Linked DNA regions of Homo sapiens. The protein of the gene in region 2 interacts with the protein of the main gene of each other region in a biochemical or structural test. Each region holds a gene or a part of one and is shown on either strand. Other genes may lie near its edges.

What was found. The genes of interacting proteins can lie anywhere in the genome.
Region 1: the proteins of HMG20A (region 2) and DTNB form a complex in vitro, tested with the Homo sapiens proteins (one study listed by BioGRID).

Annotation. Positions count from the first base shown.
Region 1 is NC_000002.12:25,379,040-25,383,578, reverse strand, and holds part of DTNB (dystrobrevin beta), read left to right. Parts: intron 1-4,255; coding exon 4,256-4,260; coding exon of another isoform or gene 4,261-4,289; intron 4,290-4,539.
Region 2 is NC_000015.10:77,468,172-77,473,677, forward strand, and holds part of HMG20A (high mobility group protein 20A), read left to right. Parts: intron 1-2,738; coding exon 2,739-2,871; intron 2,872-3,611; coding exon 3,612-3,643; intron 3,644-5,506. UniProt on the Homo sapiens protein: Plays a role in neuronal differentiation as chromatin-associated protein. Acts as inhibitor of HMG20B. Overcomes the repressive effects of the neuronal silencer REST and induces the activation of neuronal-specific genes.

The DNA of each region.
Region 1 (4,539 bases), on a different chromosome or scaffold from region 2:
AACACAAAAGATGACCCTTTGACTGGAGAAGTTTATGATCTAGTTAATAAAGCAAGACCAGGCCAGGTGCGGTGGCTCACGCCTGTAATCCCAGCACTTTGGGAGGCTGAGGCGGGTGGATCACAAGGTCAGGAGTTCAAGACCAGCAGGCTGGCCAACATAGTGAAACCTCATCTCTACTAAAAATACAAAAAATTAGCCAGGTGTGGTGGCAGGCGCCTGTAGTCCCAGCTACTTGGGGAGAATGAGGCAGGAGAATCACTTGAACCTGGGAGGCAGAGATTGCAGTGAGCCGAGATCACACCACTGCACTCCGTCCTGGGCAACAAGAGTGAAACTCCATCTCCAAAAAAAAAAAAAAAAAAGACCAAAAATGCAAAATAAATAGATCAAATGAAGTGGCAGAAAAAGCTAATCATAAAACTTTCAGCATATAAGTATAATAAGGGTTTCTGAAAAGGAAGAGATTGTTGTGGACTAGAATAGCCAAATGGTTTTGTGGCTTCATGGAAGAATAAAACCAAGAAGGGAAGGTGTCAGCAAAGGACAGTAGTGCCTTCCTAGTTTCATTATATATCGAACCTGCTTAACACATGACATCTGGGAAGAGCTGCAGGGAATGATTTTCACGTATGATGATCTCATCTAATCCTTAACACTGTGAGACAGATTCGAATATCCCCATTTTACCCATGAGGAAATAGGCTCAGAGAGATGTTGTTCATGTAGCTGTTAAACGGCAGAGATTTAGGCCAGACGTGGTGGCTCACACCTGTAATCCCAGCACTTTGGAAGGCCGAGGCGGGCGGATCACTTGAGGCCAGGAATTCGAGAGCAGCCTGGCCAACATGGTGAAACCCTGTCTCTACTAAAAATACAAAAATAAGCCAGGTGTGGTGGTGCATGCCTGTAATCGCAGCTACTCGGGAGGCTGAAGCAGGAGAATCCCTTGAACTCAGGAGGCAGAGGTTGCAGTGAGCCAAGATCACGCAACTGCACTCCAGCCTGGGCAACAAAGAGAGACTCTGTCTCAAAAAAAAAAAAAAAAAAAAAAAAAAAGGCAGAGAACTGGGTCTTTCTGACTCCAAACTTCGTGCTCTTAATCTTCATCCTTCTATGTTATACTGAACAGAAAACAAAATTTTCTTTGGACATTTGAGGGTGAGCTGTTCTTTCTGTTGTGCATTAATGTGTTAGTTGCTGGATTCCTCCTAAACATCAGCTCCTCAAGGCAGAGATTTTAGTCTGTTTTGTTCATGTTGTGTTCCAGTGCCTGGTGCTTAGTAGGAGGTCAATAAATGAACAAATCAAAGGAAATAAATGGGGTGATGAGATAGAGAGTACCTTATCGGGGAGAGAAATGCAATGGCTGGTCACCCCAAGGAGGTGAAGGTAGGGAGAGCAGGAAGCATGAGGAGGAGCCAGCAGCAGCCCTCCCAGGGAGGAATTCTGAACAAGGCTCGGGGGAGTGAAAGAACCTGCCAGCTGATAAATGGCACAGCCTGAGTTCAACTCCAATGCCCATGGTTTAGTCTGAGCTGAACTGGTAGACTAAGGGAAGTGGAGTGGTCTTACTTAAGGAAGGGTAGAAGCCAAGTGGGAGATACAGGTAAGGAAGCTGTGACAAGAAAGGGAAACCTACAGGACAGTGGGTCTGGAGCATTCTTGGCCCATAGGGGCTGGAGTGGCTAAGACAGGGTCGTCTTTGGAGTCTCACGGGGCAAGGAATTTGTCAGCAAGGACCCTGAAATTGCTGAGGAAGAAACTGGGAGAAGAGGAAGAAGATTCTGCAGATTCTGAAATCGTCTAGTGAGTCTGAGCTAGGCCTGGGAGGAAGTGGACAGCAGCGCCAACGAGTTGATGAGAATGACATATGTGGCACGGACACCAAAAGGTCAGACTAGGCTGGGCATGGTGGCTTACACCTGTAATCCCAGCACTTTAGGAGGCTGAGGCAGGGGGATCACTTGATGCCAGGAGTTTGAGACCAGCATAGGCAACATAGCAAGACCCCATCTCTACAAAAAATAAATTAGCCGGATGTGGTAGTGCACACCTGTAGTCCCAGCTGCTTTGGAGGCAGAGGCAGGAGGACTGCTTGAGCCCAGGAGTTTAAGGCTGCAGTGAGCTATAGTCACGCCACTGCATTCCAGCCTGGATAACAGAGCAAAGCCCTATCTAAAAAATAAAAATAAAAGGTCACATTAGAGAGCAGTAGTGTTTCAGACATCCAGGAATGCTTCATAGAAATGTAGAAACAATTGACTTACCCACACAGACAAGAAAGAAGGCAGGAGGGCAAAAGGTGAAGAGATACACAGATAAATTTACACTGGTGTAAACACATGCTGCAAACACGCGCACACACACGCACACGCACATGCACATGCACATGCCAACCAAATCCTAGCATTCATGTGGAATGTTCCTGGCTGAAGACATAACAGCTGCATCTCTGGCCTCCCTTCACCTGCCCCTCCCTTCCCCAGTAGCTTTTTCCCATGGCCTCTCCTCAGTCCTTTTCACTCCACCAAAGCAAACCTAGGACTGCCCCAGCCACTGAGGCCTTGCCCTGGCCACGAACTCTAGCCCTTATCCTGGTTCGAGTCTGAGTGTGGGCCATGCCTCACATGGGAATCAGACTGGGTTTCCCTTGCCCAGCCCTCCAGGCCCCAGGGTGCTGTCTCTGCACCTGCACTCCCCTGTCCACATCAAACTGGGTTTCCCTTGCCCGGGCCTCCAGGTCCCAAGGTGCTGTCTTTGCACCTGCACTCCACTGTCCACATCAGACTGGGTTTCCCTCGCCCGGGCCTCCAGGCCCCAGGGCACTGTCTCTGCACGTGCACTGCCCTGTTCGCATCAGACTGGGTTTCCCTTTCCCGGCACTCCAGGCCCCAGGGCACTGTCTTTACACCTGCACTGCCCTGTCTGCATCTCTTCTGTCTTTCTGTGCCTCTTGCCCTTAGAGCTCCTTGTCTGTCTTTCAGTGCATATACCAGAATGTCTGTATGTCTATGTGAAATCTTTTTGTGGGAATGCCTGAATTTTTACGTATGTGACTTTCTGGTGTCATCCCTAAGGCCAAGAGTGTTAAGAGTTGGGGTGAGAGATGGTAGAGTTTTTTATGTTTGGCTCTCCACATTATATAGGTTCTAGGATATGTCCCTGAAACTACAACGTAGCTCATACATGGGCATTTTTATAAGACTAAGTGTTTTTATGGGTGGACCTCCTGATTCTCTGCCATGAGCTAGGCCTGAGATTTTACAGACCTAGGACTAACTGCAGTCACCTGGACACCAGAGATCTGTAACTGTCAACCGTAAAGAGAGAGAGTATATTTGCTTCTTTGGGGTTGAAACCATACTGACGTAATATAAACAGAATTTGGTCAGCACCATCAGGCAAACATAGTCTGCTCGATAAGGAAACTGTGAGAGTCAAATGGAACTTTTGAAGAATCTAGACCAAGCTGAACTTCCCTGCCATATTCACCCCTGCCTCACGCCTCTCCCTGTTCACCCCTGGCTGGCTGGCTGCATCCTGGGGAATGCTTCTGCTCCATCGGGGTACCCTTCCTCCTCTGCATCTCCTCAAGAGAAGTGTAACCAAGACACATAGAAGAAGCACAGACTAACACACCTTCCCCCATAGTACATCATCTCCACCCTCCACAGCCTCATGTTATGCTCCTGTGTCCTTCACAGTCTCCCCTCCCATACCCTGCCATCCCGGTGTGGGGGCTGTAAATCCAGTTTGCATCCATAAAGAGCCCTGGTGCAAGGCTGGACAGCAATGGCCCTCAGAGAACAGAACAGGCTCAGGAGGGGCCAGGCAGTGCTCGAGCCTCGGGTGAGCAAGCGCAGGGCTTTTCAAAGCAGACCATCTGCAGGAGGGGGACCGCCCTCACTCAAGGCGCAGTCATGTTCCCTTGGGGAACTTTCAGAGCTGAGTGGGCTTTGCCCCCCTCATGTAACTGCTCCCTGGATTTAAGGAGTTTTGATTCCATTTTTTAATGACTTTCCTTCTCCTGAGAAGCATCTGTCTCCATGGCTGCCTCGGGTTGGCTACAGTAGTAGAAAGTATGACTCTACCCTGCTGTCATACCTGGGTGGGAAAAGTCAACAAACGAGTAACGGGAGAAGCAAGGAAGCCCCTGGGGTGGGTTGGTCAGGGAAGCCCCTTTGAGATAGTCTGGGGCATGAGAAGACCTGGCCGTGACCTCAGTGTGTTGTTTCTGCCCATGCTGCCACAGGTTAGCAGAGGAGCCGGACACAGAGGAAGCTCAGGTGAGTACAAAGAGTCCTCTGCCTCCCCACGGCCCCTCCCTCCTTCCTCAGCATCTTCCCTTCCCCTCCCTTCCTGCAGTCACAGGTCCCTAGCCAGGGCAGTCCTAACAGGTGAAGATGCAAGAGCCCAACTGTCCCTTCCCTTTGCCCACCCCAGCCATGTGCCCTCCTTGCCCTGTTTCTAGGCTGTGTCCTGTCTTGCACAGCACTGTCTGCAGGCCTGGTCCTTGGGCATGGCCTGGTGTCCTCT
Region 2 (5,506 bases):
TATCATCCATTGTTTTGGCGCTACTGTATAAAAGGATAGTGGGCTGTACATACTATGCTATTCTTTTCTTTTTTTTCTTTATTTTAAAATTAATATGTGCTCATTATTCTCTTTTCAGAGAATACAGAAATGTATAAACAAAAATGTAAAAATAACAGTGCTTATTTCTTGGGATAACCACTATTACGTAGGACAAAGGTTTTGTGTTTGTTTTTGTTTTTTTAACTTTTTTTGGAAATAATTTCAAATACACAAAAAGTTACAAACATAAAAATAATACAAAGAACATCCCAACACTCTTTACCCAGATTCACCTATTGTTAACACATTTTATTCCATTTCTCCATTTGCATATGCACTTATATGCTCAGTCTTTCTTATACTTTTGCATGCTCAGTCTTTCTCTCTCTCTCTCTCTCTCTCTGTCACACACACACACACACACACACACACACTTGCATGTGTACACCCAGACACACACAAAATTTTGTTTTAATCATGTGAGGATAAATTATATACATTGTAGCCCTTTACCCCCAGGATATTTCAGTGTGTATGTCAAAGAATATTTTCTTATATAACCATAGTGTAGTCATCAATTTCATAATTTTTCATTAACAGTGCTTTAATCTGTCATCTATATGTTGACTGAATGTCATTTCTTTATAACATTTTTCCCTTCCAAAACAGGTTCCAGTCTAGGGTCAGGTTTTGTGTTTAGTAGTCAAGTTTCTTTAGCTTAAACTGGGATATTTCCATAATCTTTCTTTTTCTTTTATAACATTGATATTTTTTTAAAATACAGTTCCCTTCTGCTTCCCCCGCTGCTTTTACCTTTAACAGAACATTGCTCATTGTGTATTTTTCAGATGTTTCCTTGTGATTAGATTGAGGTTGCGCATTCTTGGTGGGATTACTTGCATAGGTGGTGGTGTGTTCTCAATATGTCACATATGCAGGCACACAATGTCCTTTTGTTTCTCACTAGTAATGTTAATTTTGCTTACCTGGTACATTATTTAAATTCTCCTTTGTCATTAATAAGTAATCTATGGGGAGACGATTTAAGAACATACAAACAGCCTGTTTTACATCAACATTTTCCCCTAGATTTAGCATCCATTGATTATTTTTGCCTGATTTAATCTTTATCATTATGGTTACAACGTGATGATTTTTCCAACTCCAGCACTCCCTTTACATTTACCAGGTAGCCTTCAGCATTCTAATCTAAGCAAGATCTTGGCTTACTGCAACCTTGACCTCCTGGTCTCAAGCACCCCTCCCACCTTAGCCTCCTAAGTAGCACACACCACCAAAACTGGCTAATTATTTTATGTTTTGTAGAGATGGGATCTCACTTTGTTGCCTAGGCTGGACTCAAACATCTGGGCTCAAGCAGTCCTCCTCTTGCCTTGGCCTCCCAACATCCTGTGATTACAGATATGAGCCACCATGCCCGACCCCCTACCCCCATTTATTTATTTGTTTGTTTGTTTGTTTGTTTGTTTTTTGAGATGGAATCTTGCTCTGTCGCCCAAACTGGAGTGCGGTGGCACACTCTCGGCTCATTGCAACCTCCACCTCCCAGGTTCAAGCGATTCTCTAGCCTCAGCTTCCCAAGTAGCTGGGACTACAGGCGTGCACCATCACACCCAGCTAATTTTTGTATTTTTAGTAGAGATGGGGTTTCAGCATGTTGACCAGTGTGGTCTTGAACTCCTGACCTCAAGTGATCCACCCACCTCGGTCTCCCAAAATGTTGGGATTACGTGCGTGAGCCACCACGCTCAGCCTCTACACCCATTTATTGTATTTGTATGGTAACAAATCATTGGTATTGTGTCTGTTATAAATCATACTAATAATAGTATGAAGTTTTTTCTACTAGTTTATAATTTATTACTGTACTTAATTATTTTGGTGCTTAAATTGTACCAGATTTGGCCAGTTGAGTATCCCCTACATCTGGCTCTTACGCGGGACAAAGTGTTTAACATAATTTCTGAGTGTGTTTTCTGTTCATTTAGAAGCAGTATTTTTATACTTTCTTATACTTCATTTTGATGAATGAAAAGGGCAAAGCATTAAACAAAATAATCCTGGTAGATCAATGAACTTTGTTTAAATAATTAATAGCACAAAGCAATCAAAGCATGTAGATATAGGTTCTCTCAGAGTAGTCCATTTTTAGGTCCATAGGATGAGGTCATTATTTTTATGTTCTTTGTGTCTCCCAGCTTCATTGCTCCAACCTCCTGGCTCTTAAAGGGCCAATTGATGTATGACATCATCCCCTCAAAATGGGCTGGAGACAGCAAAACAAAGTAATATTCTGTTCCTTCCCTTGGGAAGACTAAGTGTGCCTATGTGGTGTGCACATCTCATGAGGATGACTCTAGTGGCCATATAGAGTTCTATCTATAGAGTTAGAAGAATAACTCTAATCATCTTCATGAATTTTTTATAAGAATGATCTCAATAGAACTTGTCTTCATTAGGTTAGAAAAGGCAATAAATATTCTAAAAACTCATAATGACCTATTTACTTTTATAATTGAGAGGTTATATTTTATTCTATTCATACAACTCTTGTTTTTCTGATTCTTTTTTAAGGCATATTCCCTATATTCTTTTCTTCCCATGTTCTAATTGTCCTGTTTTCTTCAAATAGGTAATTTAATTTTATTTAAATAGGATCTCATTTTCTTGAAAATAATTCTGTATTTCTTTCCTAGCGCTACCTTGATGAAGCAGACAGAGATAAGGAGCGTTACATGAAGGAACTGGAACAGTATCAGAAAACAGAGGCCTACAAGGTCTTCAGTAGGAAAACCCAGGACCGTCAGAAAGGCAAATCTCATAGGCAAGGTATCAAAACCAGAACCAAATGTATTTGTAGTTTGTTGTGGGTGATGGAGTGTCATAAAGCCAACTGTTAAGAGTGGTAACTATAAAAGATGTGTTTCTGTTTTTTCTCCACTATCCAGTATTCACTTACAAGCATTATCTTGAAATTTTATTAAAATCACATTGCTCTCATTTAGAAATTTCAACTGGGTTTCCGTGTCTATTATCAATGATTTTGACTTGTCCTCCGAGACCCCTGTTAGTTGCCTGCCCTTCTTTTCCTGATTCCCAGTTTAGGCATTTCTCTGCCTGTAAGCAAGCCTATCTACAAAATTATATCAGTAACTTCCCTTTAACACTTCTAAGCCTTTCATGTGTCATTTTTGAAGCACCATCCACAACTAGCCTATTTTTCCTTAGCCATTGCATCTTCTCTATACTTGGGCATCTAGCCTGCTAAAATTATAGATGTTGTATAAGTAGTCTTTGGTTTGTGTCTTCTGTCCACTCTTCCACCCTTTTCTCCCTAAAGTTAAGAACTGTGTCTGCTGTTTCTCTTATGCCTAATTATGAATTCTGTAGGCATGGGGTTCCCTTACTTTTGTTGGCTGACCGATTAATAAAGCCTTAAGGAAAAATATCATATGTTATGAGAATCTACATATACAAGCAGGTTTTATAGTTTGGCAGAGTCGTATACTTGGGTTTTGTTATTGCTTTCTTTTTAAATGTAATGTTCTCTTATTCTTTTATATTTTTAGATGCAGCCCGGCAGGCCACTCATGATCATGAGGTAATTAGCCATCTGTCTACATATCATATATATGTATTTATAATAATGTTGCTTTTTGAAATGCTATTGGATTTTTTTTTTTTTAATGAATGGCAAAGTATTTCCTATCTCGTAATTCAGATTAAATGAGATACTTTAGCTTGGGGGTTCTTAGCATATGGCAGACACTTACGTTGTGTGTCTGTCATTGAACTACAGCCCCTAACCTCAATCCTTTCCTGTGATCTGAGAATTTTATTGGCTTTAAATGCCAAAGATGGCTGGAATTTGGAATGAAGTATAGAAATGAGGGCTAGCTGAAAGCTATAACATGACCATAGTTTATCATCACCAAATACTTAAATCTGACTCTCAGAAAAGTTGTTATTTAAAGAATCCAGCATTTGCTTAAAGCGAACTGTTCAACTACAATGTCGATAGAGCACAAGCGACAGTATCTCAGGTTTGTTTTTTGTTTTGTTTTGTTTTTTGTTTTTTTGAGATAGAGTCTCACTCTGTCGCCCAGGCTGGAGTGCAGTGGCACAATCTCAGCCCACTGCAACCTCCGCCTCCCGGGTTCAAGCAATTCTCCTGCCTCAGCCTCCCGAGTAGCTGGGACTACAGGCTCGTGCCATCATACCCGGCTAATTTTCTGTATTTTTAGTAGAGACAGGGTTTCATCATATGAGCCAGGATGGTCTCGATCTCCTGACCTCATGATCCACCCGCCTTGGCCTCCCAAAATGCTGGGATTACAGGCGTGAGCCACCACGCCCGGCCCAGTATCTCAGTTCTCACACCTCCTTTCCTATTCCCTCACTTCACTAGCACATGTTTGTGTACTGGCTTCTTTCCTCCCACTTGGTTCAGCCCCATTGTTAGGATTTAGGCCTGTGTTTCTGTGTGTGTATGGGATTTAGGTGTGTGTGTTGTTTCAAATTCTGTTTTCTCCTTCAAACTTTTCTTGTTTCCTCTAACTTCCTTTAACCCTCATGGCTCTCTATACTTGTGTTATGTGCTTAGCTGATCTGACCTAGGGGTTTTGAGGTAATTCAAGGGCTCACACTCTTTGGTTGTAATGTCTTTGTGGACATACACAGTCTAGTTTCCATCTTTATATCCAACCCCATACCACCTATCATGATACCTTTGCCTTGAGAAGGTATTCCACAAATGATTATTTTATGGAATCTATTCAAAGTTGACCTGAAATAACTGAGAATTTGAACAAAAAGAATTTTCTGATGTACTCTTTTACATGTGTTTGGTTTTTTACTAAATCAAGGAAATGTTGGTTACCTTAAAACATAGAGAAAAGATTCAGATTCACAGGTCAAATAGACGTTATTACCATCTATGAATTATAAAGTGAGAAGCATAGTAAATATTTACATTTTATTCTTCAGATAAATCCTATATAAATGTAATTATATATGACATTCTATGCTCTAATTAGGATGAAATGTTATGTTGTTTTGCTGGAGAAACTTTGTATGTATTCTTTGTATTTTAAATCATAATAATATTGTAAACTTTTCATATTAGCAGACATTTGTATAATTACTTCTCTCTTTCTTTGCCTGTGTGCCCAGCTATCAATATCATGAAATTCCTGTGCTTCTTTTTTTCTCTATTTTATAGCTTCTCTATCCTTAACAGTTACCAAAGAGAATTTGGACAGTAACCTGAAACATTAGATCTCACATTTTCTAGTCAGTCATCTGAATAGGTGTCAGTCATCTGACTCATTTCATCACTATGAATTTTGCTGGCCAAACTATATGTAGCATTTTTGTCTTCAGTAAACTTGATAGTTGCAGTCAGAAAAGATGTAGATTTAGTCTGTATCATAGAACCTGCTGCTGATTATTTGAGAAGTGAAGG